Linked DNA regions of Homo sapiens. The gene in region 1 interacts genetically with each later gene. Each region holds a gene or a part of one and is shown on either strand. Other genes may lie near its edges.

What was found.
Region 2: changes in CSK (region 1) and GNPNAT1 are lethal when combined (synthetic lethality), as found in Homo sapiens cells (one large-scale study listed by BioGRID).
Region 3: changes in CSK (region 1) and NUDT13 are lethal when combined (synthetic lethality), as found in Homo sapiens cells (one large-scale study listed by BioGRID).
Region 4: changes in CSK (region 1) and FBXW12 are lethal when combined (synthetic lethality), as found in Homo sapiens cells (one large-scale study listed by BioGRID).
Region 5: changes in CSK (region 1) and GBF1 together harm fitness more than expected from each alone (negative genetic interaction), as found in Homo sapiens cells (one study listed by BioGRID).
Region 6: changes in CSK (region 1) and HADHB are lethal when combined (synthetic lethality), as found in Homo sapiens cells (one large-scale study listed by BioGRID).
Region 7: changes in CSK (region 1) and MSH4 are lethal when combined (synthetic lethality), as found in Homo sapiens cells (one large-scale study listed by BioGRID).

What each region holds. Positions count from the first base shown.
Region 1 is NC_000015.10:74,798,615-74,802,041, reverse strand, and holds part of CSK (tyrosine-protein kinase CSK), read right to left. Parts: coding exon 3,314-3,427; intron 3,217-3,313; coding exon 3,104-3,216; intron 2,771-3,103; coding exon 2,551-2,770; intron 1,631-2,550; coding exon 1,537-1,630; intron 1,362-1,536; coding exon 1,296-1,361; intron 1,220-1,295; coding exon 1,120-1,219; intron 1,031-1,119; coding exon 940-1,030; intron 521-939; coding exon 447-520; intron 348-446; coding exon 152-347; intron 46-151; coding exon 1-45. UniProt on the Homo sapiens protein: Non-receptor tyrosine-protein kinase that plays an important role in the regulation of cell growth, differentiation, migration and immune response.
Region 2 is NC_000014.9:52,778,151-52,782,725, forward strand, and holds part of GNPNAT1 (glucosamine 6-phosphate N-acetyltransferase), read right to left. Parts: intron 3,762-4,575; coding exon 3,634-3,761; intron 2,591-3,633; coding exon 2,529-2,590; intron 309-2,528; coding exon 161-308; 3' UTR 1-160.
Region 3 is NC_000010.11:73,116,217-73,120,834, reverse strand, and holds part of NUDT13 (NAD(P)H pyrophosphatase NUDT13, mitochondrial), read right to left. Parts: intron 1,664-4,618; exon of another isoform or gene 1,647-1,663; intron 1,385-1,646; exon of another isoform or gene 1,313-1,384; intron 818-1,312; coding exon 678-817; intron 1-677. UniProt on the Homo sapiens protein: NAD(P)H pyrophosphatase that hydrolyzes NADH into NMNH and AMP, and NADPH into NMNH and 2',5'-ADP. Has a marked preference for the reduced pyridine nucleotides.
Region 4 is NC_000003.12:48,370,380-48,375,638, reverse strand, and holds the start of FBXW12 (F-box/WD repeat-containing protein 12), read right to left. Parts: upstream 3,421-5,259; 5' UTR 3,352-3,420; coding exon of another isoform or gene 3,319-3,351; intron 2,983-3,318; exon of another isoform or gene 2,956-2,982; 5' UTR 2,872-2,955; coding exon 2,782-2,871; intron 2,332-2,781; coding exon 2,294-2,331; intron 2,092-2,293; coding exon 1,934-2,091; intron 286-1,933; coding exon 167-285; intron 1-166. UniProt on the Homo sapiens protein: Substrate-recognition component of the SCF (SKP1-CUL1-F-box protein)-type E3 ubiquitin ligase complex. Promotes degradation of interleukin-22 receptor subunit IL22RA1 in resting and IL22-stimulated conditions by facilitating its ubiquitination.
Region 5 is NC_000010.11:102,248,527-102,252,424, forward strand, and holds part of GBF1 (Golgi-specific brefeldin A-resistance guanine nucleotide exchange factor 1), read left to right. Parts: intron 1-3,898. UniProt on the Homo sapiens protein: Guanine-nucleotide exchange factor (GEF) for members of the Arf family of small GTPases involved in trafficking in the early secretory pathway; its GEF activity initiates the coating of nascent vesicles via the localized generation of activated ARFs through replacement of GDP with GTP.
Region 6 is NC_000002.12:26,286,304-26,290,921, reverse strand, and holds the end of HADHB (trifunctional enzyme subunit beta, mitochondrial isoform 1 precursor), read right to left. Parts: intron 1,005-4,618; coding exon 969-1,004; 3' UTR 457-968; downstream 1-456. UniProt on the Homo sapiens protein: Mitochondrial trifunctional enzyme catalyzes the last three of the four reactions of the mitochondrial beta-oxidation pathway.
Region 7 is NC_000001.11:75,876,313-75,880,930, reverse strand, and holds part of MSH4 (mutS protein homolog 4), read right to left. Parts: intron 3,996-4,618; coding exon 3,931-3,995; intron 2,783-3,930; coding exon 2,613-2,782; intron 1,940-2,612; coding exon 1,803-1,939; intron 882-1,802; coding exon 778-881; intron 1-777. UniProt on the Homo sapiens protein: Involved in meiotic recombination. Required for reciprocal recombination and proper segregation of homologous chromosomes at meiosis.

The DNA.
Region 1 (3,427 bases):
GAGAAGGATTCCGAAACTCCACACGTCAGACTTAGTGGAGAATTTCTGCCATGTGGATGGAAGAAGCAGCGTCAGATCCTGGGACTCCAGGGTGGGGAGTGACCCAGGACTCCTGCCCACCTCTGTAGGCCCCAGGGGAGGCCAGCCCCACCTTCTCTCTCAGGGCCTCAGGGGCTGTCCACTTGACTGGCAGCTTGCCCGTGTCCTGGGTGCTGGACGCCTCCTTGGTGAGACCAAAGTCGCTGACCTTGGCCACGTTGTCCTCAGACACCAGCACATTGCGGGCAGCCAGGTCTCGATGCACGAAATTGTTGCCCTCCAGGTATTCCATGGCCTCGCAGACATCTCTGGGGGTAGGCCAGCCACATGTCCCCTCAGACTGGGGCTCCCATAGCAGGGCAGGGTACCCCTCAAACCCTACCCATCCAAGAGGCTGCTTCACTCACAGCGAGAACTTGAGGAGACAGTCTCCGCCCAGCACTGACCGACCCCTAGACCGCAGGTAGTCCACAAGGCTCCCCTGGGGGCAGGAAGGACAGACCAGGCCGAGGTCAGACGTGCCCTGCAGCCCTCTCACACAGCACGCTGGGGCCGGGTGGGTGTTGACACTCCAGGGAGGTGTGAGACAGGGAAGGAGTGGGGAGGGGCCAGAACATCCATGCCGGACACTGCTCTGTGTTATTCATGCCTTATCCCTTGACTCTCACAAATCTCTAAGTTGTTATTATCTCCATTTCCCAGATGTGATGCTGAGGCTTGGAGGTGACATGATTTGTCCAATGTTACAGTCAATGAATGGTAAACCAGGACAAAAGCCCAGCCCTGGTGACCTAAAAGCTCACTTGGGGTCGGGGGACTGAGGGAGCAGGGGCCCTAGAGCACAGTGGGGGTTTCGGGGCAGTTGGAAGGCCTGAGTGCCGGGTCTCGGCAGGTGCCCACCTTGGCCATGTACTCAGTGACGATGTAGAGCCCGCCCTTCTCCTCCACGATCACGCCCAGGAGCTGCACCAGGTTGCTATGCCGCAGTTGCCTGGGGCAGGACGAGAGTGGTCAGAAAGGGGAAGCTGGTGCCTCACTCCTAACCTAGGCCAACCTCCCCCCTACCCCGCCCCCACTCACGTCATGACTGAGGCTTCAGCCAGGAAGGCCTGGGCAGTGGCGTCGTTCTTAATGCACTTGACGGCGACTTTGTTCCCTCGGTAATCGCCCAGCATCACGTCTGGGGGCAGAGAGGTGGTCTTGTTCCCAAGTTCGGAGTCCCTCAGAACCCCCCCAGGGGGCCCGGCCCAGCTCACCTCCGAACTCCCCCTTCCCGATGGTCTGCAGCAGCTTCAGCTCCTTCATGTTCAGGGCCCAGCCGCCTGTGGGGAGGGGCCAGTGAGGGCCTGGAGGCCACTAGGGACATGGCTGGGATGACAGAGGCTGACTGGACTATCAGGCACTGGGGTTCTCTGGAGGTTCCTGGATGGGGCAGTGCCAGGAAGCCTGCGTGGGAGGAGGTGGGTGGGCAAGAGGTCTGGGGTGGGGTGCACTCACTGCGGTAGAACTCATCCTGGGCCGCCACTGTGCCCTCCATGACCTTTGGTTTAATGAGGCGCGTACAGAGTCCATCTGCGTCTGAGGTGTAGTGCTGCAGGGTGTGGGGGGCAGGGTGCTCAGAGACAGCCCAAGGTGCCCCATATGCACCGTCCAGGCCTGACCACCAGAGGGCGGCAGAGGCCAGCCCCGCCTAGCCTGGAGTCACTGAGTGGGGAGGGCTCCCCATTTCTGGTAGGGCAGGGGTTAGGGAAGTCCCAGATTATGACGTATGGCCCATTTCCCATGCCACCCTACATGCGGTTGCTGGACACTCAGCTGCTGCTACCACTCTGGGCCCCATGGGTATCTGATGCAGAGGGCAACCCATGGCTCAGTCCTGAAACCAGCCTCTAGCCAGGAGTGCCCAGGACCCCACCCTCACCTGCCACAGGCCAAGCCAGGCCAGTAGGGGAGGGAGATAAGAGTGAATACAGAGGGACACGGGAGGCTTCCTGTGGCTACCGGATGCCAGGTGTGGCCTGGCCAGGGCTGGCAGAGCTGGCCTGGGAAGCTGCAGGGACCTGTGGGCATGTCCGTGCAGGTGCGAGAGCCTCAGGGGCCCTGGCGATCAAGGCGCATGGCTCATGTTTCTGCACACGCTTCTGAGCATGCAGGTCTGTGAGTGGCTGGAGGAAAGTTAGCTCTGGGATCAGACAGACTCAGATTCTAGTCCTGGCACCAAATTATATCTGTGGGACCTCAGGTGGGTCCCCTAACTGCTCTGAACCTTCAACTCCTGGTCTATAAAATGAGGATAAGGCTCCCCTCCTCATGGTGGCACTGTGGGGTCAGAGGTGAGTCCTGGCACGCAGCAGCTGCTCCACCAAGGTGTGAGGAAACAAGGGCTCACAGAAGTTGCCCCACATGGCTGGTCACCACGCAGAAGCAGTGGGGCTGGAGCTAGAAGCCAGGGCCCCAGATGGGTTTAGGGTGTGTGAGGGTGGGAGCAAGGCTCTGTACCCCCCAGCTCACCTCCACCAGCTGCATGAGGTTCTCAAAGTACACCTCCTCGTCGATGCTGAGCTTGCTGGCATGGTACATGATGCGGTAGTGCTCCACCTTGCCGTCGCAGCTCACGCACAGCGTGTAGTCTCCGGGGTAGTTGGTGCTCTCCCGCACCAGGAACAGGCCTGTCTCCGGCGGGTACAGAAGCCGCTCAGCCTGCTCCCGTGTGATCTTGCCGTGGAACCAACTGGGGAGCAGCAGGGCTGGAGGTCATGGTGGCCCAAAGGTACTGACCCTGGCTCCCCTTTCTGAAGGGGTTCCCTCTGCTTGGCACCCGTGGCTCGCACTCGCTCAGTCAGGCATTTGAGGCCCTCTTCTTCTGCTCCCTGTCCCTTCTTTGCCACCCTCCTGCCTCTGCCCCCAGCCCTGCTCTGTGAGGTCCCGCACCCGCACCCTGCACCTCCTCCTGAGGCCCTCCCCAACACCCAAGCCCCTCACTCTGGCCTCCCTGCTTGCTCCTGATGCTCCTTCAGGAGGACCAAGGCCCCTTCCCTCCCCAACCCCTCCTCGTGGTACTCACGGCATGAGGCTGAGTTTGGTACCCGCCTTCACGCCCTCCCGCTTCTGGACGTAGTTGGCTGGGATGATGCCCTCACGGCCCACCTTGTTTTTGGCTTTGTACCAGTTGGGGTCCTGGGGAGAGGGCAGCCCAGACATGCTCTCAGGCCCACCTCCCCCTGCAGAGGGAAGGCCCAGCAGTGGGATGGTGGGGTGGGCGTCACCTGATTACCTTGGTGACGGCCACAATGGTGAGCACGTCTCCTTTGCAGAAGGGCAGGTCCTGCTCGGCAGTGCCGTGGAAGTTGTACTTGGCAATACATTCTGTACCGGATGGCCAGGCGGC
Region 2 (4,575 bases), on another chromosome or scaffold:
CCAAAGTAATCTTCTAAATGTCATTATACTTGTAGTATTACAATGTTTTTTCAGTCCAGTATTTATGGAGGTCACTCGGCTGCAGCAACAAAATATTTCAACTCTAGGAAGAGTGTAGCCTTGTAGCATTAGCCCCTTTGACAATTTTCTTACAAGATTTTTACTTTAGAAACCTCCGACACATGTAGTTTTCTTCAGATACAGTATATCCAAACTTTTTATAGAAACCAACATTTTGTGGTAGACATTCAAGGGTAATCTTGTAACAGTTCAGTTTCTTGCTTAGCAAAGTAAGGGTTGATAATAACCTGAAATTTAAAAAGGGGGTAGGGTGAGGAGATAGCATTTATTAATAAAAATTGATTCTAGTAACAATATGAATTAATGTTATAAAACTTAAGTTTCCTTAGAAACAGGTTTAGATTATGGCTTTTCCCACTGCATTCATGTAAGTTGATAAGCATTTAAATCACCAAAGCATTTTTACTTAGAGTCAAATATACTTTTATCTAGTAATCTCCAGCTCACTAATAAACAGGACAAATACAAAACTCACCCTAAGCCCTCTTTAAAAATGAAATTTAAGGCTAGGTGCAGTGACTCATACCTGTAATCCTAGCACTCTGGGAAGCCGAGGCAGGCGATCGCTAGAGCCCAGGGGTTTGACACCAGCCTGGGAAACACGGCAAAACCCCATCTCTACAAAATATAAAAATTAGTAGGGCATGATGGCACATGCCTAAAGTCGCAGCTACTCCAGAGGCTGAGGGGGGAAGATCACCTGAGCCCAGAGAGGTCAAGGCTGCGGTGAGTAGTGATTGTGCCACTGCACTCCAGCCTGGGCAACAGAGTGAGTCTCTGTCTTGAAAAAGAAAAACGAATTTTAAGATGCATGTTAACACTAAAAACTCAACCTTTAAAAAAAAAAATGACCAAAATTATTTTGTAAAAATTCTTTATTTAAATCTATTTAAACAACTTCGGAGCAGTCGACATACCCACATAAAATGAGTACATAATAGCTTTGCTCTTTAATCATTTTTAAAGCTACTTTAATATTTGTGAAGGTGTGTATCAGATTAACTCAAGATTGGTCTAATTAATATGAAGTGGAAACAAAGCAAGTCTACATCTATACAAAATTTCTTAATGAATCCAAACCCAGTATTAAAGTGTGGATCTAAGTGCCTTAGAGGATAAAAACTATAAAAGATATACAAACTTGAAGGGTCTGCCCATGTTTGAACAGACTAAAAAATCCTATTTTTAAAAAAAACAAAAGACCTTGACTGAAGTATGCCTGGCTGGTTGCAGTGGCTCATGCCTGTAATTCCAGCACTTTAGGAGGCCAAGGATCACTTGAGTCCAGAAGTTCGAGACTAGCCAAAGCAACATAGCAAAACCCTATCTCTATAAAAAATTAGCTGGGTGCAGCGGCATGCACCTGTAGTCCCAGCTACTTGGGAGGCTGAGGCGAGAGGCTCACTTGAGCCCCAGAAATTCAAGGCTGCAGTGAGCTGTGATCGTACCACTGTATACTCCAGCCTGGGCAACAGAAAGAGATCCCATCTCTTAAAAAAAAAAAAAAAAAAAAAAAAAACATAAATTATATAGACTAGAACACAAGAAATCGGTCTGTTTTGTTCACTGAGGTATTCCAAATACCTAGAATAGCATCTGGTACATAAGCAGGTATTTAATATTTGTTAATTCCTTAAAACTCAGAAGAGTTAGTGTTAAAAAGCAAGTTCTTGGGCCAGGCACAGTGGCTCCCACCTGTAATCCCAGCACTTTGGGAGGCCAAGGCAGGAGCACTGTTTGAGACCAGCCTGAGCAACATGATGAGGCCCCATCTCTACAAATTTTTAAAAATTAGCCAGGTGTGGCGTGTACCTGTAGTCCCAGCTAATTGGGGGGCTGAAGAGGATTGCTTGAGCCCAGGAGGCTGAGGCTGCAGTGAGCTGAGATTGAGCCACTGCACCTCAGCCTGGGTGACAGAGCTGTCAAAAACAGACCCTGTCTCAAAAACTAAAAATTATAATAAATAAGAACTACAAGTTCTTATAAAATGGCAATAAATCAATACCACTTATTTATATTTATTTTAAATGATTTAGATATATACAGTGAAGGCTGTTTCAGTATGTATTTCTACAACTTATGAGAATGAGAGATCACAGAATATTCTGTAATAGTTGAACATTTCCTTTGTTTTTAAATATGACAGAGAAGCTGAGGCAAATCCGATTAGCCCAAAAGTTTATCTCCTACTAGGACGAGAGCATTACTATAAAAAGTTAGTAATTTAAAGATGTTACTGTCTGTAAAGAAGTATGCTTCCAATTTTCAAACTTTAAGGCAAAATATGTATAATAATACTTTATTTCTTCATGAAATTCAGTCTAAACTATTAGAGTGAGAATAAGTTCAGAATTAATGAAGCCAAAAAGAACTTCAAACAAGTATCTTGTTAAGAAACTAAATTGGAACAAAATTTATCCAGGGTTACCTTGTTTCTGCCTACTTACAATTTGCCAAGCTGCTTTCCTCTGCATTCATCACTAACAACAACATCTTCTACTCTTCCTCTCTGAAAATATTTACAATGTTTAAAGGAGTAAGCATTTACTTTTGTTTTTAGCTAAAACGAGTTGGTAAGAATTTACTGATAATAAGTAGTATATTTTGTAAACTTGAACTTAACAGAAATCAAATGCAAAAAATATTATACAGTGAAGGCTGTTTCAGTATGTATTTCTACAACTTATGAGAAGGAGAGATCATAGAATATTCTGTAATAGCTGAACATTTCCTTTGTTTTTAAATATGACAGAGAAGCTGGGGCAAATCTGATTAGCCCAAAAGTTTGTTTCCTACTAGTATGAGAGTACTACTATTAAAAGTTAATAATTTAAAGATGTTTTTACTTATTAGAGGAAATAGTATGAGTCAAGTTGTGACCTAAACTTGTTTTGGCTATGTCCCCAACCTTCCCACCCCATTGTCTTTAAACAAATATCAGGATCAACATCACCAAAATGTAACCTTTTCATGAATATATCCATCATTCTACTCCTTGCTTACTAGCAAGTTATTTTAGATATCCAAATAAAATTAATGTCTAGTACAGAAACCCCACCGAAATTCCTAAGTGTGACAGAACACATCCCAAGTGTTCCTACCTTATTCTCATTGAATTAAGGTTTTCTCTCCCTCTTTTTTTATTTACTATTTTATGTGAGTTATTGAGGGATGAAAGGGCACTACATGCATTAGATGTATCATAATTAGAACGGAATAATCTGAACCCTTTACCATGTGGAAACAAATTTATGCTAACGTGGTATATTCAGAGTTGTTTTTTTTAAAAGAGTAACATTAGGGATTTTGTGCATTACTGCTAAGTTGTTTGGTTTCTCTATGCCTATACCAAATTGATCCACCTTACAGAACAATTTTAGCATACAATTCATACTGTTATACATTTTCTTTCTTAAAGCTCTCAGAACACACTGGGAAAAGGGATTTCTAAGAGGCACTGAAAATCAATGAGAAAACAGATTTGTCTAATGGAAACTCAAAGTCAGTTGTGCTAGAAAACAGCTGTCCATTTTATTTATAAGCAGCACATACCTTAGCACAGGAATGGATGAATTTATGTTCTATAATCAGAGTTGCCGTAGCAACAATCTGTCCTAGAGTCACATCTTCTACAACTGTAACATAATAATCCCCAGATTTCTTCATATGCTCAAAAGATTCTGTGGAAATTGGATAACAAAGTGTTACATAGTAGACATTCAATTTTATGGGGAGCCAGAAAAATATTAGGATTAGCTGACTTAATTACTAAATGTTTAAAGCTGTTTTACCATAGTAATTTACCTTCCATTTCTAAAGAAAATATTACCAAGTAGTTGAAATATCAGCAATTAGTATCAATTGGAATATAACCTACACATTCAAAATATCTGCTAGCAAAATAAAGACTAATATAGCTATTTTAGATGAACAACACTTAAAATACAAGTAAATGGCTGATGTTGCCACTTCCATGACTAATGAAAACTTCAATTTCTTCATTTACTTTAAATAGATCTCTTTAACTTTTATACTCAATAGATATTCAAATATAACCTTTGCACATTTTAACAAGAGCATGTTTACATGGCTCAATTCTAGAATTTTTAGTCTTTTGCTTTCAAAATATTTTTACAAAATATATTTTAATTTTCCCTTTGTGATGGAAAGTGTTTTGTGATAACATGACTTGCTCTTGTTTGCTTTGAGAGCACCTTGCAAGGAAGTAAAAACATATCTGTTTCCAAGTAACTTTTCCAAGTCACATAGCAAATAGGTGCAAAGATACTTCCCCTCAAATGGATTTTCAGTACTATTGCTGAAATAACATGGTTTCTCATCTAATTCATGTGCATGCAAAGAAAAATTCAGGAATAAAAATTGAGGCTAATAGTCTCTCATATTGTTAATTTCTATGGTCTCATTCCAGATAGAGATCTAAAATGGGAAAAAGAAATTCAGTGAATGAAAATAAACAATGAGAATCAGAATGAT
Region 3 (4,618 bases), on another chromosome or scaffold:
TCCCGAGTAGCTGGGACTACAGGCACCCGCCACCACGCCCGGCTAATTTTTTTGTATTTTTAGTAGAGACGGGTTTCACCGTGTTAGCCAGGTTGGTCTTGATCTCTTGACCTCGTGATCTGCCCTCCTCGGCCTCCCAAAGTGCTGGGATTACAGGCGTGAGCCACCGCGCCTGGCCATGATGGAACTCTGAATTAGCATAACTGTGTACCTCTGTGGAGGCTGGAATTCACTGCTCTAAGGCAAAGAATGGCAAACTTTTTCTGGAAAGAGATACTAAATATTTTAGGCTTTGTGAGTCATACAGTCTCTGTCACAACTCTGCATTGTAGTGCAAAAGTAGCCATAGACAATATGTCAATGAATGAGTACGTCTATGTTCCAATAAAAATTAATTTACAAAACAGGTAGCAGATACAATTTGGACAGCAGTTTTACCAACCCCTGGTTTAAGGCATTAGTGGTTCATTTCATCACCAAATAATATTTGACTGGACAACTAGAGTTCATACAATAAATTATTAGTTGGCAGAAGCAGTTATACAAGCATGAGACTCAAAAGCTTTCTGAAAAATCTAGACTCCAAAGTTCAAGGATCTTTCTTAGAATTCATTATGGGCTGAATTCTGCGTAGTGGCCACAGGCTGGTCAACGCCACTGGTCCACTCTGGACTTACCTAACAGGCTGTGCCGGGGGGCCAGGTATTGATGTGCTGAAGTCTGAAGCAGAGGAGCCAGACTATGAAAGAGGTAAAACGCTCCTGTTTGCTGGGCTTTTTTACATGCATCATCATCTTCCTTCAGTTCAAATAAATACCTGTATTTGGGAAATAATCAAACCATTACAAAACCACCCTTAGTTACCTGTATAGCATTCATCTTTGAGAATGCTGTCGCTGCATCCCTCTCTTACCATGGTTATTTCCCTTTATTTATTTACAACCTAATTTGCTCCAAAAAGGGTTTGAGGTGGCTATAGATAATCATTCATTCCCTCCTTTGTCTTACTGTGTACCTCACCCATACTTCTGTGGTTGCACTATTGGTTTATTTGTTCATTTGTCTGTCTCCTCTGAGAGACTATGATCTCCTTAAGGGGAAGGTATGCTTTACTCAGCTCTGTATCTCTGTAGTTAGCATATTGAATGGCTCGATTCAATAAATATTTATTGAATTGAACTTCAAGGGTAATAAATATTTACTGAATTGAACTTCAAGTTACTCTGCCAATATTACACTGTGAGGCAAGAATTTACATGCAGTGGAGTGAAAGGAAAACAAGTACAGTGATAAAACATCAACCACAAAATACCTAGAGATGGGAACAGACTTTTTCACAGCAGACAAAGAGTAAACACTGTATCTTCAGTGACCCTCATTCAATCTAGGGAAGATAAAGAACAAATTTTACCTTCAATGTACCCTTACTTCAGACATCTAGATCCCAAAGTAGATACCATTAACTCCTTATCTCTAGCAAAGGGAGCACCTGGCCGGGCGTGGTAGCTCACGCCTGTAATCCCAGCACTTTGGGAGGCTGAGGCAGGTGGATCACGAGGTCAGGAGTTCGAGACCAGCCTGGCCAATATGGTGAAACCCTGTCTCTACTAAAAATACAAAAATTAGCTGGGCATGGTGGCACGCACCTGTAGTCCCAGCTACTCAGGAGGCTGAGGCCGAAGAATCGCTTGAACCTGGGAGGCGAAGGTTGCAGTAAGCAGAGATCACGCCACTGCACTCCAGCCTGGATGACAGAGCGAGACTCCATCTCAAAAAAAAAGAAAACAAAGGGAGCATTGATGAAACCTATACTTAACCTATTTAATAAGGATAGTATTTTCATTTTCCTTCTTTTTTTGTTTTGAGACAGAGTCTCACTCTGTCACCCAGGCTGGAGTGCAGTGGCACGATCTCAGCTGACTGCAGCTTCTGCCTCCCAGGTTCAGGCAATTCTCGTGCCTCAGCCTCCCGAGTACCTGGGATTACAGGCATGCCCCACCATGCCCAGCTAATTTCTGTATTTTAGTAGAGACGGGGTTTCATCATGTTGGCCAGGCTGGTTTCGAACTCCTGACCTCAAGTGATCTGCCCTCGGCCTCCCAAAGTGCTGGGATTACAGGTGTGTGCCACCACACCCAGCCATAGTATTTTCAGTAGCCAAAATGAAAATGTGGAAAAAGGGAACATCCTCCTATTCTTGGTTTCTCAAAAACAGGCAATAGTAATGGGGTAAGTACCAGGCTTTTCCAGTACCTTCATTAAGGGTGGGCTGAGTCTCTCCCTTCAAATCCTTGTGATCAGCAGGGACAGAATGCAGACTCCCCTGGGGCCTTGGGATTAGCCATTTTTGCCTGTCAAAAGCCCTAAAACAGACGCTCAGGTAAAAACTGGCTTCTTTTGTCAAGTGGGAAAAATAGTTTGCAGATATTTCCTGTGGGATCTGAGAACTCATGTAATACCAGTAGGCAGAGTTTGCTCAACATGAAAATAAAAAGCAAAAAGACAAATGCACCCCAGTGCTATCTTTCAGAACCTACTCTTGACTGTGATAAAAGGGGTTACGATGAGCTCTTTATAAATAGAAGACAAAAGAAACCTGATCTTTTAAGAATTGTGATATTTTTAAACTTATGAGTCACTGTAGCCTCCTGGGGCAAAGACTCAATGCATGTCAAAGGAGAGACGTGTCACTCAGAAGTTACCAAATATAAACAATAGAACAAACACTGCTGCCTTCGTAAAAGAACAGAAAGAGTGGTACAACCTGTACTTGCCCTAATGACCCTAAAAAGCAAAACACCTACAAAAACACCCAGGTTAAGGTCTTAGACCCAGGGCCTCACTGGAACTGGAATTGAGATCCAAAAGTTCCTTACACTCCTCTGGATTGGGAACTCTTATTTTTAAAAATGTATTTTCCCTTTTCAGTTATAATAGCATAGAAATTGCTATGATTATCAAAGTTGAAAATATTTAGATTATTTTAAAACAAACTTTTTCCTTATTTTAACAGTAAAAAATAGTCAATCTTTAATAATCAGAATATACAATTGTCAATTTTTTGAAAAGAAAATCATCAAAATCCCACCACTCAGGGATAATCACTGTTTACACTTTGGAATTCTCTAAGCGATTACTATTATACATCAATACATATATAAGTATATTTAGAATCCATCAAACCTACTAATTTGTAGCCTTTTTTCTTAAACATATGTAAACATTTTCACATCATATTCTTTATTGATAGACTTTTATTCTTTTTTTTTTTTTTTTTGAGACTGAGTTTCACTCTTGTTTTCCAGGCTGGAGTGCAGTGGCACGATCTTGGCTCACTGTAACCTCTGCCTCCCGGGTCCAAGTGATTCTCTTGCCTCAGCCTCCCAAGTAGCTGGGATTACAGGTGCCCGCCACCACACCTGGCTAATTTTTGTATTTTTAATAGAGATGGGGTTTTGCCATGTTGGCCAGGCTGGTCTCGAACTCCTGACCTCAGGTGATCCACCCGTCTCAGCCTCCCAAAGTGCTGGGATTACAGGTGTGAGCTACCGTGCCTGACCTCATTATTTTTATTCATTCTTAAATAGATTTATTTAATCACTTTAACATACTTAAATTTTAGACTCTATTTAATAATTATGTTAATATTCTTGGCCAGGCGTGGTGGCGTACTCCTGTAATCCCAGCACTTTGGGAGGTCGAGGTGGGTGGATCACAAGGTCAAGAGATCCAGACCATCCTGGCCAACATGGTGAAACCCCATATCAACTAAAAATACAAAAATTAGCTGGGCGTGGTGGCGTGTGCCTTAGTCCCAGCTACTCAGGAGGCTGAGGCAGGAGAATCACTTGAACCCATGAGGTGGAGGTTGCAGTGAGCTGAGATCACACCACTGCAGTCCAGCCTGGCAACAGAGCAAGACTCCATCTCAAAAAAAAAAAAAAAAAAAAAAAAAAAATTCTTGTAGTCTGTTAAAGGAGTACACGCAATCTAAATGTCCAACAATATCTGAAACAAGTATCACAATTTTGTTGTTTGTTCACTCTTGTTCATGTAGGATTATATGCTTATGTGCTTCTAATTTTTTTTCTTTGAGACAGGGTCTCACTCTATCATGCAGGCTAGAGTGCAATGACACGATCTCGGCTTATTGCAACTTCCACCTCCCAGGTTCAAGCGACTCTCCCACCTCAGCCTCCTGAGTAGCTGTGACTACAGGTGCACGCCACCATTCCTGGCTAATTTTTGTATTTTTAGTAGAGACGGCTTCACCATGCCGGCCAAGCTGGTCTCGAACTCCTGACCTCGAGTGATCTGCCCGCCTTGGCTTCCCAAAGTGCTGGGATTACAGGCATGAGCCACTGCACCCAGCCTTTATATGCCTCTAAATTTTGGAGCTTGATAGGGCTTTATATATTGGAATCACTGGTTGTGAGTGTGTACTTCCTAAGGAGTTTTATATTTGTATTCACATGGTGCCCCAGGGGTATTTTCAGTCCAAGATTACTACTTAAATTCATTTCTTAGGCTGGGCATGGTGGCTCATGCCTATAATCCCAGCACTTTGGGAGGTAAAGGCAGGAGGATTGCTTGAGCCCAGGAGTTTGAGACCAGCCTG
Region 4 (5,259 bases), on another chromosome or scaffold:
CTATGGTCCAAATGAAAAGGTCACAAATTACATGATAGAAAACCTGATTTGACACTTTGTTTTTGTTACCACTTCCGAATATTTTCCTCTCAGCACTTCCGTTTCATATATAGAACAGGATGGATGCAAATATGCAGTACTTTTGCCACATATTGGCCAGACTCACCTCTTGCACATCCCAGGCACAAAGCTCTTGCTTTGGAGATACACTACAAATGATTGATTTCTCCTGTTCATCCACTGTAAGTCTATTTCCTGAGAGATAAGCCAACTCCGTCTCAAATGCTAGAAGGAAACATAGAAGACTTGGCCACCAGATAGTTAAGGGATGATCCAAACCAAAAGAAGATAATTTAAAATATTTCTGTACCCTCTTAGGAAGGTTTGGGTAACAATATGGAGAAGATAGAAATTGGGCTCCAGAGTCATCCAAACACAGGTTCCCACGGCAGACTGGCCATTTGGGAGATGTTGGCCAACTTGCTTTTCCTTTTTATCCTCAGTTTCCATAGATATAAAAGGCATATTAAAATCTCTCCATCAGAGAACTTTTCTGAGTTTTAAAAGAGTTATCAAGTCCAGGCACAGTGGTTCACGCCTGTAATCCCAGCACTTTGGGAAGCTGAGGTAGGTGGATCACTTGAGGCCAGGAGTTCTAGACCGGCCTGGCCAACATGCTAAACCTGTCTCTACTAAAAATACAAAAATTAGCATGTTGGCAGGTGCCTGTAATCCCAACTACTTGGGAGGCTGAGGCATGAGAATTGCTTGAACCCAGGAGGCGGAGGTTGCAGTAAGCCAAGATCATGCTGCTGCACTCCAGCCTCGGAGACAAAATGAGACTCTGTTTTTAAAAAAAAAAAAAAAAAAAAAAGTGTTATCAGGATTAGGCCAGGTACAGTGGCTCACGCCTGTGAGGCCGAGGTGGGAGGATCGCTTGAGTTCAGGAGTTCAAGACCAGCCTGGGTAACAAAGTGAGACCTAATCTCTACAAAAAAATTTAAAAAATATGGTCGGGTATGGTGGCTTATGCCCGGAATCCCAGCAATTTGGGAGGCCAAGGCAGGTGGATCACTTGAGGTCAGGAGTTCAAGACCAGCCTGGCTAATATGGTGAAACCCCATCTGTACTAAAAACACAAAAATTAGTTGGGCATGGTGGTAAATGCCTGTAATCCCAGCTACTCAGGGGGCTAAGGCAGGAGAATCACTCGAACCCAGGAGACAGAGGCTGCAGTGAGCCGAGATCGTGCCATTGCACTCCAGCCTAGATGACAGAGCAAGACTCAACCTCAAAAAAAAAAAAAAAATCAACTGGTTGTGGTGGTGTACCCCTGTAGTCCCAGTTACACAGGAGGCTGAGGCAGGAAGATCTCTTGAGCCCAGGAGGTTGAGGCTGCAGCTGTAGAGCCTATGTATGCATTTATTTAGAGACAGGGTCTGGCCCTGTCACCCAGGCTAATTTTTTAAATTTTTTCATAGAGATGGAGGGGGGGTCTCACTTTGTTGGCCAGGCTGGTCTTGAACTCGTGGGCTCAAGTGATCTGCCCACCTCGGCCTTTCAAAGTTCTGGGATTACAGGCATGAGCCACTGTGCCCAGCCAAGCCTCTGTTTTTTAGAGTTTCCCATTAATTTTTTTTTTCTGATTTTTATTCTGGGAGGGATGAGAAGCCTTAGGAAAAAGGGAGTAACAGGACCTGATTTTATGTTGTGAAAAAAAATCACTCTAGTTTCTTCATTCAGCACAGATGGTGGGGACAAGAGAGGAAGCAGGGAGATATCACATGGCTATCACGGCAACCCAGTCTGGTTCAATTTTAATTCCTTTTCCCTTTACTGAATGAGAATACACAACTGCACACAGCAAAAATCAAATAGAGTGGACCTCTGAAAACAAGCTGCTCATGTTCCTCTAGGGCACCTATACCCATACCGATGTTCTTAGTTACTTTGTAGATAAAGTTATGCGGCTGTGCCAATGCCAACCGAAGCTCCTTCCTTCTTTGATGCAGGAAAAATTGCTTCCATGTGTGTGTGCCCAGGTGTTGATTGGTGAAGTTGCTGCAGTCCCATCTCTGCAGAGATAGTGACCTGGAAACAGAGTCACAGTCCCATCAGGCTGTTCTCAGTCAGTTCACCTCCTCAGAGCCCCGGTTATATCACAACCCCCTACTCACACTAACTTTCCTGTGTATATCTCACAACACAGCCACACAGGCCTTGGGACACAGCATGGGTGCGCAGTCAGATGATCTCCTCTCCCCTTCCCTCCTTGCCCTTTCCCTTCCCTTACCTCCACAGGTAATCACTGTCTGCAATCCTATTCCAATGCTATGGGAGAGAAAGGAAGAGACAAGCAGGCAATCAGTTACATCAGAGAGCAAGGGTAATCCTCTGCTATTATTTGTTCTGGGAGCTGGGCCCGCACAGGTTAATCAGATGGGATTCCAGCTCTCAAAGCACTCTCAGTGTGGGGAGATAAGGAAATGGTAACAACAGAGACCTATCACTGCTAATACAGGCACTGGGTATTCCCATGAATTCACAGGAAGAAGTGTTGATTTCCTAGGGCTTGAAATGGGAGCCTCAAGGACTGTTTAGTCAGCACAACTCCTGGATATCAGCTTGTCCTTTTCGTTTAACAGAATATGAGGCCCTCAGTATGAAGAATGCTAACCCCCAAAGCCTCAGTGTAACCCTCTGCTATTCTGCAAAGTGGTGCTCAAACTGGTCGAGAGAAGCAGCGGGCTTGGGGGGCAGTGGGAGGTGGAAGGCCTTTACCTTGTTCACCTGGGAAACCTGCAGCAAGCCGAACAGGTCCAGGAAAGAGAAGATTCGCTTCAAAGCTAAGTCAGGCAATCGGATCTCCATTTCATGCGGCCTGAACCCACATCCACTTTCCTTTCTCCTCTCCGGGCTGCTCTGAATTTATAGGCTTTGCCAAAGTCTGCAGCACTTGTAAAGATTTTCACCCATGCCCATCTGTGTGCGGTAGAAACAAGCTGCAGGTGTGCAGACTCCCGGGCTGACCTCCACCCCGGCCTCTCCCCTGGGGCCTGATCCACACAGCTGGCAGGCATCCCTACCTAAACCCACTTGTTAGTGCTGTTCATTGTTTAGAGGAGCTCAGCAACACCTGTGCGCTGTGAGCTGGAGGTGCAGAACCTGGGGCAGCCCCAGTTGCAGATGAAGTTGTCAGAACCCTTTAGGAAATGTCACCGAGTGCACTCACTTTGATCAGATCTGAGTGTCTCTATGACTCTATTTAAGTTCCAAACTCCTGGAATTGGAGTCTGCTTGCCCTGTGTCTGTGCCTACCTTGGGATCTTGAATCTGGTGAGTGGGGCTCATCTCTCAGCGCCAGCATGGCCTCTGGGTTTCTACCTTCTCGCATTTAACTTTGCAGTGGAGGAGAAAGAACGTGCCAAGCTGGCTTCTCCACAGAGGTCCGCCCAAAGGGAGCAGGCCTTGTCTGGGATGGCTCTCCCAGCTGGTGGCTTTCCCTGGGATGTGACGCTTTCCCACAGTTACAGATCTCCCAAGAACCTGACAACTCATTCTGGGATTTTCTAAAGACCGTGTCATAGCCTGGGTGTTTGTGTCCTCTCAAAATTCCTACGTTGAAATTCTAACCCTTGGTGTGATTGGAGGTGGGGGGCCTTTGGGAGGTAAGTGGGTCACAGGCAGAGTCCTTATGATGGGACCAGTGACCTTATAAAAGAGACCCCAGAACGCTCTCTAGCCCTGTTCATATCATGCGAGGACATGAGAAGGTGTCAGCTGCAACCTGGAAGAAGGCCCACACCAGAACCTGACCGTGCTGACAGGTGACTCTTGGACTTCTCTCCTCCAAAATTGTGAGAAATAAATTTGTTTGTAAGCCACCCAGTCTATGGTACTTTGCTGCAGCATAAGACAGGGGTCCCTCTGTGAGGCTCAGTGGCCAACCCTTCTTAAAACTGCTGCCTCCAGGCAGACACACGGGAGTGGTTGTCGGGAGTCCCATTTATGATACAGTAGTAAGAGAGAGGAAAAATACAAATTGACATGGTGAGGAAATAAAAAGGAAAAGCAAAGACCAAGAAGCACCTAGAGGGGCGTGGGGAAAGGCGAGTCAAGGGGTGTGTGGAGAGGAGTGAGAAAAATACAAGGGTAAAAGATTTGTATTCCATAAATAGGAAATAATGCAGAGAGAGCCAGAGCCGTGGAAGGACACAGGAAGACAGAAAGCTTGGAACGGACTCTATTGTAGAGGAACAGAATTAATGCAAAGATATAGAAGGCTGAGAAATAAAACACTTTAAAATATGACAAGGGAAGAGAAGAAACAGTAAAATAAAGGATATTTTAAAAGTATTAAAGCACAAATATTATAAAATACACAGATAGGAAATATAACTGTAAGTGGACTGAGACAGAGTAGGAATAAAATGGAAAAGAGGACAGATGAGAAAGAGGCAAACATAAGGAAACTGAAGCAAATTGCCGAATGAGTGAATGAATGAATTTGAAATAGAGGAACAGAGGCCAGGCACAGTGGCTCATGCCCGTAATCCCAGCACTTGGGGAGGCCGAGGCGGGTGGATCACCAGGTCAGGAGTTTGAGACCAGCTTGGCCAACATAGTGAAACCCTGTCTCTACTAAAAATACAACAAATTAGCTGGGCGTGGTGGCGGGTGCCTGTAATCCCAGCTACTTGGGAGGCTGAGGCAGGAGAATTGCTTGAAGCTGGGAGGTGGAGGTTGCAGTGAGCTGAGATTGCGCTACTGCACTCCAGCCTGGGCGACAGTGCGAGACTCCATCTCAACAACAACAACAAAAAAAATAGAGGAACAGGAAGGTGTGTTGGGGGGTGGTGGTGGCGGGGTGCTACCAGAAAAGCGGCAGAGAAAGACACATTGCAACAATAGATGAAGACAAATCTAAATGTCACAAGAGTTAAGAGATGTAAAATTTGAGAGATGTGAAATGGTAACTGCGTAATAGTCTAAGCAAAAGATAAGATGCAGGTGAGAGAATGGTCCGGACATTGTCTAGGAGAAAGTAGATTAAAGCAGGCAGCTGGGGAAACCTGAGAAGAGGGATCCATAAGGAGTTGGGCAGCCTGAGAGTAGGACAGAGAGGGAGGGACGACACAGCATGGGAAGTAAAGGGGGCGTAGCAAGGGGAGAAGTAACAGCACACCTTTCATGGCGCCTTCTGCAGGCAAGGCACCCGTCTAAACAATTTACAGGGGCTCATCTATTTAATCCTCACAA
Region 5 (3,898 bases), on another chromosome or scaffold:
CAGGCAGGTAATGTAAATGAGTTAATTGAGTCCCATGGGAATGTATTAGGATTAGTGGGGACTGTTGTGTACTGGACAACCCATGCCTTTATTTTTTTTTTGTCTTTAATTTTAATTTCTTTTTATTGAGACAGGGTCTTGCTCTGTCACCCCGGCTGGAGTGCAGAGGAACGATCACAGCTCACTGCAGCCTTGACCTCTGGGCTCAAGTGATCTTCCTACCTCAGCCTCCCAAGTAGCGGGGAACACAGATGTGCGCCATCATGCCCAGCTAATTTTTTAATATTTTGTAGAGACAAGGTCTCACTGTATTGCTCAGGCTGGTTTCGAACTCCTAGACTCAAGCAGTCCTCCCACTTTTGCCTCCCAAAGTGCTGGGATTTTAGGAATGAACCACCATGCTCAACCCATTCCTTTATTTAGAAGAGCCAACTGCTCCTTTTTCAGCAGATTGTTACTGTTTTAGAGTGCAGGCACAGAATGACCACTCTTTCTATTTTTCAGGAGAAACTGGAAATTTAGATCATTGTGTTTTCTAATTGTTGGAAACTAGTTAAAAGTATTTTTAAGCCTTTTTCAGGCCAAAGAAAATATGTCTGTGGACTGGATTCTGCCCAATGGTTACTGGATGATGACCCTCAATAAACAAAATGGGCAGGCCTTATGAGACTTAATCACTGCAGTTCTCTATACATAATCACATAGACTTTTTTTCTTTGTCCTACTCTGCCAGCTGTCACCTTTGTACCTTGGGTGCCCTGAGTGGCTAAAAGATGGAGTGAGATAGAGAAGGTTTGTTTTATTTTTCATCTCCAAGCTGGCAGAAGGGACAGCTTTGGACATATTAGTAGCTTACCTTGTAAACGGTTTTTGAGATACTCTCAGAATCTCCACAGGGGGAGGAGATGGCATGCTAGAGCTGAGGTACCCTGGTCACCCGATTATCAGGTCTGGGAGGATTTTCCAGTGATGCATTGTCAGGGCACCAGCTTTTTTCCCAGTTTAACCTTCTTTTACTTCCACCCTTTAAGTAAATTTCTTGAGCTCAGTAAGTTGTTTCCTAGTTTAGTAACTTTGGTTATTCTCAATAAAGCACAGAACTATGATGTGTTCCTAGGCCAGCTCTGGAAATGTTAAAAGCTCTGCATCTTTAGTGTTTCTCTGGCTTTTTTTTTTTTTTTCTCTGATGGAGTCTTGCTCTGTTGCCCAGGCTGGAGTGCAGTGGTGTGATCTTGGCTCACTGCAACCTCCGCCTCCTGGGTTCAAGCAATTCTCCTGCCTTAGCCTCCCAAGTAGCTGGGACTACAGGTGCACGCCACCACACCCAGCTAATTTTTGTATTTTTAATAGAGATGTGGTTTCACCATATTGGCCAGGCTGGTCTTGAACTCTTGACTTCGTGATCCGCCCACCTCGGCCTCCCAAAGTGCTGGGATTATAGGTGTGAGCCAATGCGCCCAGCCTTCTCTGGCTTTTAAAGGTATTGAGTGAACATAAACCTTAGAAGGGCCTATTGCTGGTCCTTTAGCTCCCTACTACCATCTACCTTTTCAGAAAGTCCATCAGTTTTTCTTGGTTTGCCCAGCTCTGTATTAGACACAAAGGCATCATGAAAAAGAAAAACAAAATTGCGCTTTTGCCTTTGGAGAATTTATTTGCTAGTTGGATAAGAATAATTTTTTTTTGAGACAGAGTCTCTCTCTGCCACCCAAGCTGGAATGCAGTGGTGTGAGATCTCGGCTCACTGCAACCTTTGCCTCTCAGGCTGAAGTGATCCTCCCATCTCAGCCTCCTGAGTAGCTGGGACTATAGGTGCGTGCCACCACGCCTGCCTGATTTTTGTGTTTTTTGTAGACACAGGATTTTACTATGTTGCCCAGAGTCCAGTGGTGTCATCATAGCCCATTGCAGCCTTGATTTTTTTTGGCTCAACTGATCCTCCTACCTTAGGCTCCCTAGTGGCTGGAACTACAGGCATGTATCACTATGTCCCACTAATTTTTTTTTTTTTTTTTTTAATTTATGTTGCCTAGGCTGGTCTCTGACTCCTGAGCTCAACCATTCCTCCTGCTTTGGCCTCCTAAAGTGCTGGGATTAAAGATGAGAGCTACTGCACCTGGCCAAGGAAATGTTTAAAAGTGATTAAGAGGCCGGGCGTGGTAGCTCATGCCTGTAATGCCAGCACTTTGGGAAGTCAAGGGAGGCAGATCACCTGAGGTCAGGAGTTAAAGGCCAGCCTGGCCAACATGGTGAAACGCTGTCTCTACTAAAAATATAAAAATTAGCTAGGCGTGGTTGTGGGCGCCTGTAATCCCAGCTACTCGGGAGGCTGAGGCAGGAGAATCACTTGAACCCTGGAGGTGGAGGTTGCAGTGAGCCGAGATTGCGCCACTGCACTCCAGCCTAGACGACAAGAGCGAAACTCTGTCTCAAAACAAACAACCAAACAAACACAAAACCAAACCCCATAAAAGTGATTAAGAAAAAAAAAAAAACCACTTAAACACTAGTGTACTAAAAACAGCTATTTAGAGCCAAAGAAAATAAGGCATATATGAAGAATTGACAGTTACATTAAAAATTATATATTTCACAAAAATGTGAATGTGCAAATAACACTTAAGGAGATGTCAGGAAGATAGACGTGAAAAAAGAAGCATTATGATATGGCTGGTAGGTAAATGTGGGTTCTTTTTACCTGTATGGAAGGTTTGTAACTTCTGGTAGAGAAGCAAATATATATTATCAAAAAAAGGTTTGCCAGTGTGGCTCAGAGTTATTGTCTTCTATGAAGTCATTTTTCTCATGAGGTGGATGTGTGCTGTACCACTCTTGAAGAGTCAGTCTTGATGTTATTTCATTTGTTCATCTAGTATTTATTGATCATTTTTCTTACTATGTGTCAGGCTTTGGAGATAAAAGGGTAAATAAATCATGGTCTTTCCCCCTGAGATAGAGCCTGATAGTCCCATGGTGGTGATACACTAAATAAATAATTATAAATTAGTATAAGATGTGTTTATTTTTATTTTCATTTATTTATTTGAGGCAGAGTCTCACTCTGTCACCCAGGCTGGAGTACAGTGGCACGATCATACCGCAAGGCAACCTGGAACTCCTGGGCTCAAGTGATCCTCCTGCCTTAGCCTCCCAAGTAGCTGGGACAACAGGTGTGCGCCACCACACCTGGCCAATTTTTCTTTATGTTTTGTAGAGACAGGGTCTCGCCATGTTGCCTAAGCTGGTCTTGAACTTCTAGGCTCAACTGATGCTCCCTCCTTGGCCTCCCAAAGTGCTGGGATCACAGACATCAGCCACTGTCCCCAGCCAAGATATGTTTAGAGATAACTACAAAGTGCTGTGGGTGGCCGGGCATGGTAGTTCATGCCTATAATCCCAGCACTTTGAGAGGCCGAGGCAGGCAGATCACTTGAGGTCAGGAGTTTGAGACCAGGAGTTTGAGACCAGCCTGGCCAACATGGTGAAACCCCAACTCTACTAAAAATACTCTGCTAAAAAAGTGGAAAAAAGGGCTGGGCGCAGTGGCTCACACCTGTAATCCCAGCACTTTGGGAGGCCGAGGTGGGCAGATCACCTGAGGCCGGGAGTTTGAGACCAGCCTGACCAACACGGAGAAACCTCATCTCTACTAAAAATACAAAATTGGCCCGGCATGGTGGCGCATGAATGTAATCCCAGCTGCTGGGAGGTTGAGGCAGGAGAATCGCTTAAACCTGGGAGGCAGAGGTTACGGTGAGCCGAGATTGTGCCATTGCACTCCAGCCTGGGCAACAAGGGGGAAACGCTGTCTCAAAAAAAAAAAAAAAGTGGAAAAATAAATAAATAAATAAATAAGTGGTTTTAAGATTGTTCTTAGAACCACTGTGATATTCTGACT
Region 6 (4,618 bases), on another chromosome or scaffold:
AGGCTGGGCGCAGTGGCTCACACCTGTAATCCCAGCACTTTGGGAGGCCGAGGCAGGTGGATCACCTGAAGTCAGGAGTTTGAGACCAGCCTGGCCAACATGGCAAAACACTATCTCTACTAAAACTACAAAAATTAACCAAGTGTGGTGGTGGGTGCCTGTAATCCCAGCTACTCGGCAGGCTGAAGTAGAAGAATCGCTTGAACCGGGGAGGCAGAGGTTGCAGTGAGCCGAGATTGTGCCACTGCACTCCAGCCTGGGCAACAGAGTGAGACTCCATCTCAAAAAAAAAATAATAATAATAAATAAATAAACAGGATTGTCTTTATCTTCCCAGCAGCCTCAGCATTGACCACAATAGTTAGAAGTTATAAATGAGTAATTAAAGGCAAAAATCTGGTCCTAAGCCAAGAGAACCACCCTCCCCTGATGAATAAAAAATGAGGTAAACAGTTCTCCAATATTTCTCCACTTTATTAACGCTGACCACCATATTTATGTATCTAAACATTTTTTATAAGTTTTCAGTGGTGTTTAGATTCTGAATTATTTTTCCATAATTAATTAGGCACGTTGGTTTGTATTTTATAGAGAACACATCTTTAGGACACAGATAAGAACAAGTATAATTTGCAAATATTACAAAGATGATTTCCAAATCTCAGTTGACCTCTTTCCCAACTGCAAACCCTCATTTAGTCTTTAGTGACAACAGAGACCAAAAACAACCACCCACACATCTCATGTGAGATTCTGGTGGCTTAGAAATCCCTGAAAGAGCAGTAAACTGATTATTGAAAAGCTCAGAACACTGGCAAGGCTTAAGTGCAAACTATTTAATAGAAGGCCACAAGAACTGTTTTCCTAAGAGGAGCTAGGAACTACAAATGTCATTTAGTAATGCATTGAAATGGCATTGCCTAGTGTGAGTGTTGCACAGAAACTTCAGGTCACTTCTTCTGGATCTATTATTTTGGATAAGCTTCCACTATCATAGCATGGCCCTGTAAAGAAAACAAAGTCCAATTAGAGCAATGAATGGTGATGAATCCACCTAGTACAGGGACAGCAGAGAACAAGGAGAAAAGTACAGGCTTTGGAGTGGGATCCTGGCTCTGCCAATCAATCACTGTGATCTTGGGAAAGTTTGTAGTCAGTCTAAACTGGAATTTCCTCTACAAAATGGGGCTCATAGTGTCTACTTCATAGAGTTTTTGTGGGCATCACATAACATACAGTATATTTGTATATGTGTGTATATATATACACACACATATATATTTATATACATTCATATATACATGTATACATATATGCATCAGGCTCTGTCTAGTACAGAATCTAATTCCTAGTGATGCTCTACAAATGGATGCTGTTAAAATGAGAAATCCAGGGGCTTTTTTAACTGTATAAACATAAACATGATACAGCAAATACCAATAAAAGTAAGTTTCTAGAGGGGAAAACTGAGGCTCTGAAAGGTTAAGTGACTCACCCAAATCACAAAGCTATTAAGGTAACAGGGCCAGGATTTGAAACCAGGTCTAGATGATTCCAAAGGCTGGGCTTGTCCCTTCTTCACTATTCTACACAGGTTAAGATAATGATCTGAGGGACCACAAAGGGAAGAAGTAGAATATCTTTCTTTTTTTATTTTTTTTATTTATTATTTTGGAGACCGTGCCTCGCCGTTGCCCAGGCTGGAGTACAGTGACGCGATCTCAGCTCACTGCAAGCTCCGCCTCCCGGGTTCACGCCATTCTCCTGCCTCAGCCTCCCGAGTAGCTGGGACTACAGGCGCCCGCCACCACGTCCGGCTAATTTTTTGTATTTTTAGTAGAGATGGGGTTTCACCGTGTTAGCCAGGATGGTCTCGATATCCTGACCTCGTGATCTGCCTGCCTCGGCCTCCCAAAGTGCTGGATTACAGGCATGAGCCACTGTGCCCGGCCAGAAGTAGAATATCTTTTATCCAGCACTATGCACAGTGCTATGTACTAGCTATGTCCTTAGTTTAGATGAGTCTAAATCCTAGCATAGAATTTTTAGACACCCTCTAAAAAACAAAAAAGTAAATAAAAGAAACTATTATTTACAAAGTGCCAAGTTGAACACTGCAGGTTTAAAGATTTGCCACATGGTCTTTGTCCTCAATCAAGTATACACTGGAGTTCAAAACAAACTGTTAAGTACTTGGTTTTTCTGTTTTTTTTGAAACAGGGCCTCCCTCTGTCACCCAGGCTGGAGTGCAGTGGCCTGAACACGGCTCACTGCAGCCTCAACCTCCCGGGCTCAGGTGATACTTCCACCTCAGCCTCCCGAGTAGCTGGGACTACAGGCACCCACCACCACGCCCAGCTAGTTTTTGTATTTTTAGTAGAGATGGGGTTTTGCCATGTTGTCCAGGATGGTCTCGAACTCCTGAGCTCAAGCAATCTGCCCACCTCAGCCTCCCAAAGTGCTAGGATTACAGGCATGAGCTACCACACCTGGCATGTTAAGTACATTGAAAAGGCACAAGCAGACAAAAAAAGAGCAGGGATAGGAAGGTTTGACTGACTTGGGGGTTGTCCTGAAAGAATTCATAATAAGGTAGACTACTCCTCTCTGGCTTGCTTATTTTATTTTTTATTTATTTTAATTTCTTTATTTGCTTTTTGAGACAAGGCAACTCTGTCACCTAGGCTAAAGTGCAGTGGCGTGAATACAGCGCACTACAGCCTCAACATCCCGGGCTCAAGCAATCCTCTCACCTCCCTCCTGAGTAACTGGGACCACAGGTGCGTACCATCATACCTGGCTAATTTTTGTATTTTTGGTAGAGACGAGGTTTTGCCATGTTGCCCAGGCTAGTCTCGAATTCCTGCGTTCAAGCCACCCAGCTGCCTTAGCCTCCCAAAATGCTGCGATCACAGGCATAAGCTACCGCACCCAGCCCTCTCTGGCTTTATTTTAAACACACTGTTTTCATGTTCCATGTTTTTTCTTGCTCTAGATCAGATTTGGCAACACCTGGAGATACTTTTGGTTATACCAACCGTGTGTACCTGGGGCAGAGGTGGGGAGGAGCTTGTTGCTACTGCTATCCGATGGGTAGAGGCCATGCTAAACACCCTACAACACACAGCCCCCCAAAACAAAGAATTGTTTGGCCCAAAATGTTAGTGCCAAAGTTGAGAAACCCTGCTCTAGATTCACCACGATGGATTTCTCCTCTGTCTCCAACCATGTTGGTATTGCTCACGTGGCTCTTGATCAAACAATGTCAAGTTTAATCTAGTTTCTCAGATGCATCTTATCTTCTCTCTTCATACTATAAACTTCTAGAAGAAAGGTGCTAGGTATTATTCCTTGTTCATCCATAAAAGCATCCAGTATTGTGTTATTTATACTCTACATGCTAGATAAAGAATTAGGGAACACATACTCAAATCTGCAGACATTACCCTATGTGGATTACGCACTATGCTCGTGAGTAATGTGTACAGGTTATCTCCCTGGTAGAAGCCTGGCATGAAGAGATAGAGGGATCGCTCTAGTCTTAATGGACCATGGTTTTCTGTAGATGAAGTTACACAGATTAAAAAGCATTTGTGATCATAAAGTCCAAAATGTTCCAACTGATAAATAACTGACCCCTTGGTTTCTGCAAAGTCTCTGAGGAAAATCCATGAAAAAGGGCTTTTAAACGTAAGATTTATTTCATTTACTTTATTTTTGAGACAGAGTCTCTCTCTGTCACCAGGCTGGAGTGCAATGGCGCCATCTCGGCTCACTGCAACCTCCACCTCCCGGGTTCAAGCGATTCCCCTGCCTCAGCCTCCTGAGTAGCTGGAATTACAGGCGCACACCACCACACTAGGCTAGTTTTTATAATTTTAGTAGAGACAAGGTTTCACCATGTTGGCCAGGCTGGTCTCGAACTCCTGACCTCAAGTGACCTACCCGCCTCAACCTCCCAAAGTGTTGGGATTACAGGCGTGAGCCACTGCACCCGGCCAGTTTATGCTTTTAAATATTTATTCATTTTGATCAGGAACAGGAAGTTTCTGTAATCTAGAGGAAGAGAAAATCTGTTCACATCGGGATTAAAAAAAAAAAAAAAAAACAAAAACAGGCCAGGCACAGTGGCTCATGCCTGTAATCCCAGCACTTTGGGAGGCTGAGGTAGGCGGATCACCTGAGGTCAGGAGTTCGAGACCGGCCTGGCCAATACGGTGAAACCCCGTCTCTACTAAAAATACAAAAAAAATTGCCCGGGCTTGGTGGTGAGCACCTGTAATCCCAGCTACTCAGGAGGCTGAGACAGGAGAATCGCTTGAACTCGCGAGGCAGAGGTTGCAGTGAGCCGAGGTGGCACCACTGCACTCCAGCCTGGGGGACAGAGTGAGACTCTGTCTCAAAAAACAAACAAACAAAAAACAAACTACAATCTTCCTTTTGGATTTTATTCCTAGAGTGAGATGCTACAGCAGTCAGGAAGTTGGGTCTCTAATGCAAGTGAAGTAGAAAGGAAAAAATCTGTCAACAATATATTTCCCCAGCTGAACAGCAGTAAGTTATCCAGAAGTAAATTAACTCCCCAGTTAAGGTATAATTCAGTTCTCTAGAAAGATAG
Region 7 (4,618 bases), on another chromosome or scaffold:
TCAAGCCCTCATTATACTTGGAAAGATCCCATTTGCTAATCACTTTGTGAATTTGCAAATGTTAAGTTCAACACAAAAACTATATGCATTTTCTCTCTCATCCATTTTTTCTTTCTCTCTCGTTCTTGTTCTCTCACTCACACACATGCACACAGACACAATATCTGAATAATATAATTATTTAAGTTTTTATAAGGCAGAGTTATACTGTGATATAGTGCAAAAAGTTTTTCTCTTGCAAAGATAAATATGTACCCAAAACTTACTATATATTAAAATGTTGGTGGTACATGCCTTGAAATTGTCTTGAAAGCCCAACCTTTCTCTTTATTACTTCAGCCTAATAAGTGTTCTAAATCTTCTACTTCTTCTTTCTGGCTGTATTGCTACTATTTCATGACCAGCAAAAGAACTGACACTATTGTGATATTGCTATTGAATTATTAATATCAAGGTATAAGAAGCTGAGGACTTACAGACCATAGGAAAATAATAAACTGAACGAAGCCCAGGTAAGCCCCTGATGTGCCAAGTTCTACATCATGGTAGAATGCACATTACAGAAATATCAATTATAAAAGTATTTGTTTGCAATTAGATCTTCCCCGAAGCTTCTGTGAGGCTCAGTGATTCTAATCACAAAGACAGACTTCCTTTGCTAACATGCATAATTCTACAATTGTCTGTAATTAGATAAAAATTAAACTAATACAATTGTAACAGTTTCTCAAATTAAACCAATTTAATTCAATATTCAAATACTTCAAATGCTCTTACATATAAGTCATGTGATAGATTTCTCTCAAAGATTCTTGGCATCTTTCATTCATTTTAATTAAATCTGCTGATGTAAAGCTGTAAGAATTTTTCACTTTAGAAATCTGCTTGGAGATTAAAAAACAAATGTCAAGATAAATGCACACTACTATGAAATGTAAGATTTTAAACAACAGAAATATGGGTATTTAGGTTAATCATTTTACTCTTTGAGATATGGTATCACAAAGAAAGTTCTAAATAATATTTGTGAAATGTAAGAGGTAGATCACTTCAAAGGATAAAGCCAAATTTTTTAACCCATACATTCATTTTTAAAAAGCAGGATATTTTGACCTAGTTCATCTGGGATGACTACTCTGATAGGTCTTAAAATGTTAAAAACACTACATCTTATTACCAAGTAACACGCATGATGGACATCAGTGATCCTCACTCCATCTCTGACCCCTGTCGCAGCCCTTGTCCTATATCTGAACCTCAACTCAATCTCTAATCGTACTCAAGCTCTAAAAGCCTGAAAGCTAAATGGTTTGTTCTTATCAAAAAGTACCCCCTAAGCAGATAGAACAAAGATTAGAGTGGGTTAGACTTTCCCAAACTGGTATATTGTAAAGGAGCTATATAGGAAAAATTATTCCTGTGGTACAAAGGTTTGGAAATATTAGATTTTTAAAAGTTAAGTAGATTTATTTACTTCAGGACTTTTTAAACCTTTAACAGGCAAATGGTGTGGTATTTTCCTAATTTCTTTTATCATAAACAGCTTTTGGATGTTCTTTCTTCATTTTCCTTTTTTTCTTACACCAAGCTCCCAGAACTGTGGAAAACACTGAGTTTGGTATTTCTGCAAAAGCATCTAAATCACTCTTAGATTAGTACATTAGTTAGGTGGGTGGGTAGGAATAGGAGAAGATACAGAACATTCAGAAATTTGGCTTGCAAAACTCAAGAAGTCCCAAAAATATGTAGATGTAATTCTATAAAATCAGAAACACTAATTTCCTAACCACTCTAAAATGAACCTTAATAAATTCTGAAGGAAGTTGATCACTAGGTAGGGCTATACAATCTGTAGTCATCTGGATGAAAAATCCTCGAGCAGAGCTAAAACTTGTCCTTAAAGGTAGACTATATTTTTCTCCAAGTTGTGATATCATTCCTGGTGACCAGAAACAAGAAAAACAAAAACAAAACAAAATGAATAAATTTTAATGAGAAAAATCACTCTGTTTTAAAGAGTCACATGGTTTTTAAATTCTTATTTTATACATAAATAGGAGGTCTTGTTGCTCTTTCAAACTCTAATAATTTTTTTTTTTTTTCAAGACAGATCTCACTCTGTCGCCCAGGCTGAGCACAGTGGCACAATCATAACTTACTGCAGTCTCGACCTCCTGGGCTCAAGTGATCCAAGTGATCCTCCTACCTCAGCCTCCGGAGTAGCTGGGACTACAGGCATACATCACCATGCCTGGCAAATTTTCTCAGTTTTTGTAGAGACAACGTCTTGTCTCTACAAAAGACTAGCTATGTTGCCAAGGCTAGCCTCAAACTCCTGGACTCAAGCTATCAGCCCTCCTTGGCCTCCCAAAGTGCTGGGATTATAGGCATGAGCTATTGCACTTGGCAATGGAAGGTTTTCAAAAGGAGTTTAGTATGAAGGCTGCCACATATGCTGTTTCCTTAAATGGCACTACATGCTAACCTTATGTTTTGGTAACGAAAAATAAATTTAAAATATGTATGGCTAGTCATCAGCAGCAAAAAAGGACAGCATGTCCTGAAAAGGCTGTTTTATCCCTACAAAAAACATTATCAAATAAAGAAATTACCTGCTATGTCATCTACAATCTCTGTGTATGTTCTTCTTGCTATGTCAAGAAATTCATTTATGTTAGACCTCACTGCATAGCACTTCTGAGTCCTCATGTTTAGGCATCCTTTCATGTATCTTGCATCATCATTAATTACTGTTTTAATCTTTTCAAGTATGATTCCAAACCTAATATTAAGGCCAAAAGAAAAACATTATAGGCAATAAGTCAAAGAGTTATTTTAATTTATAATTTGAATCACAATTGATGATAGCAAATTTTTGTTGAAAGTTATTTTGAAATAACTAATTAAGCAACAAATATTTAAATTTACTTAAGTTAGAGCTGTGACTATTTCATATTTAAACTGTTTCATCAGTCAGGACTAGTCTAAAACAGCATCAGGACCCCAAAAACAATTCTACATCTGCTAATAGAGCTCACAAATTACATATACTGATGTGCCTGTGGGTACAAAATACATCTCTAAAGAACTGTCATAAAAATTGTGGCTTCATGCTCATTCACTCAATAAACATCAATGTACACCATGTATCAAGCACTGTGCTAGGTGAAGAGATTCAGAGAAGAATAACATATGATCCCTGCCTTCGGTAGAGGCAAGAGACACTAAACACATATGTAGACAGCGTAACAGGAACCTCACAATTACCAGTGGTAAAGTTCAGTGATTATGCAAACCAGAAATCTGGTAACACATATTTTCCTCAACTTTTCCTTCATTCCATTCTATATTTTATTTGTAATTAAGCCAGTTTTATTATTAACTTCAATGTGTGGCCTCACACGGGATAAATCTTCAATTAATAGAATAATAGTTCTTAAGTATCACAAATCTTTTCAGTTCAGAACCAAGGTCTGGATTGAACCAGTAGTTCTTCAGTCCACAACTACTGCTAATAATTTAATACTGTTAAAATTAAACAGCATTTAGATTGTATTCAATATTTATATCTACTATTTTTTGTTACATTAGACCCTTCATGATTTAACAAAATAAAGAAATATATTTTTATTATTTGCAAGTCTTTCCATGGAGAATGGCTTTAAAAGGAAATATTAAAATTGTGCTTGGATTTCAAGTTTTCATGCTATTCTAATTGTCCTTTAACACAAATAATCAATGTGTTGTTACCCTATTTATTCTACTTATAATGTGAAATGTACAATTAGAATTTTGATGAATAGGTTAAAGATTCTGTTAACCAAAACTCAAGTAATTGTTCCATAGAATACAATTAGAGTCTTTAAAATCAGTTATGATCAGGAAGAAGAGAATAATCTTATTTTTTATTAACGGTTGAGTGACAAAGACCTCTTGTCTTCCAAGGAACCATAGTAAGCTCTTAATAAAGGTGTGTTACAGTTCTTCATAGCAATCTATTAAAGAATAAAATAAAAAAGTTAAGGATAATCAATTACAAGATCATTCAAACATATCATTTTACAGTTGTTTAATACTTTATAGTTTACCAAGTGCTTTCTTCATTTCCTCATTTATATACTCATAAAATATATTTGTAGCTATCTAGCTGAGGATAGACTGTATCTTTCCCTTTTTCCAAATAAAGAGTACATGGCTAATTAGTGCCATCCACTGCTTATTATAAATTTTATTTTTCTTGCCTCTCTACTAATTGTTAACACCCGACAACTTACATATATAGGTACTTAAACAACTACTGTTGTACATTTAGAGTACTCTACATATAATTCCAAAATTTAGGTTAGATATACATTAGACCAAAAAAGTGCTTTGTATATTCATAAATAGAGCAATTTCTCAATTCTTATATAGTAAAAATAGGGATTTTATTTTGCTTAATGAAAACTATGAGGGGGTCACTAACTAAATAAACAGAAAAGAAGAAGAGAAAGCATATTTAGCCTGGCCATTATCTCCTTTTTTAAATTTGATATGAAGCAATGGTGATAACTTTTTTTGCTTATGAACAGAAAATAATATGCACAGACAGATAAAAACTAAAAAATTCACCAAAATT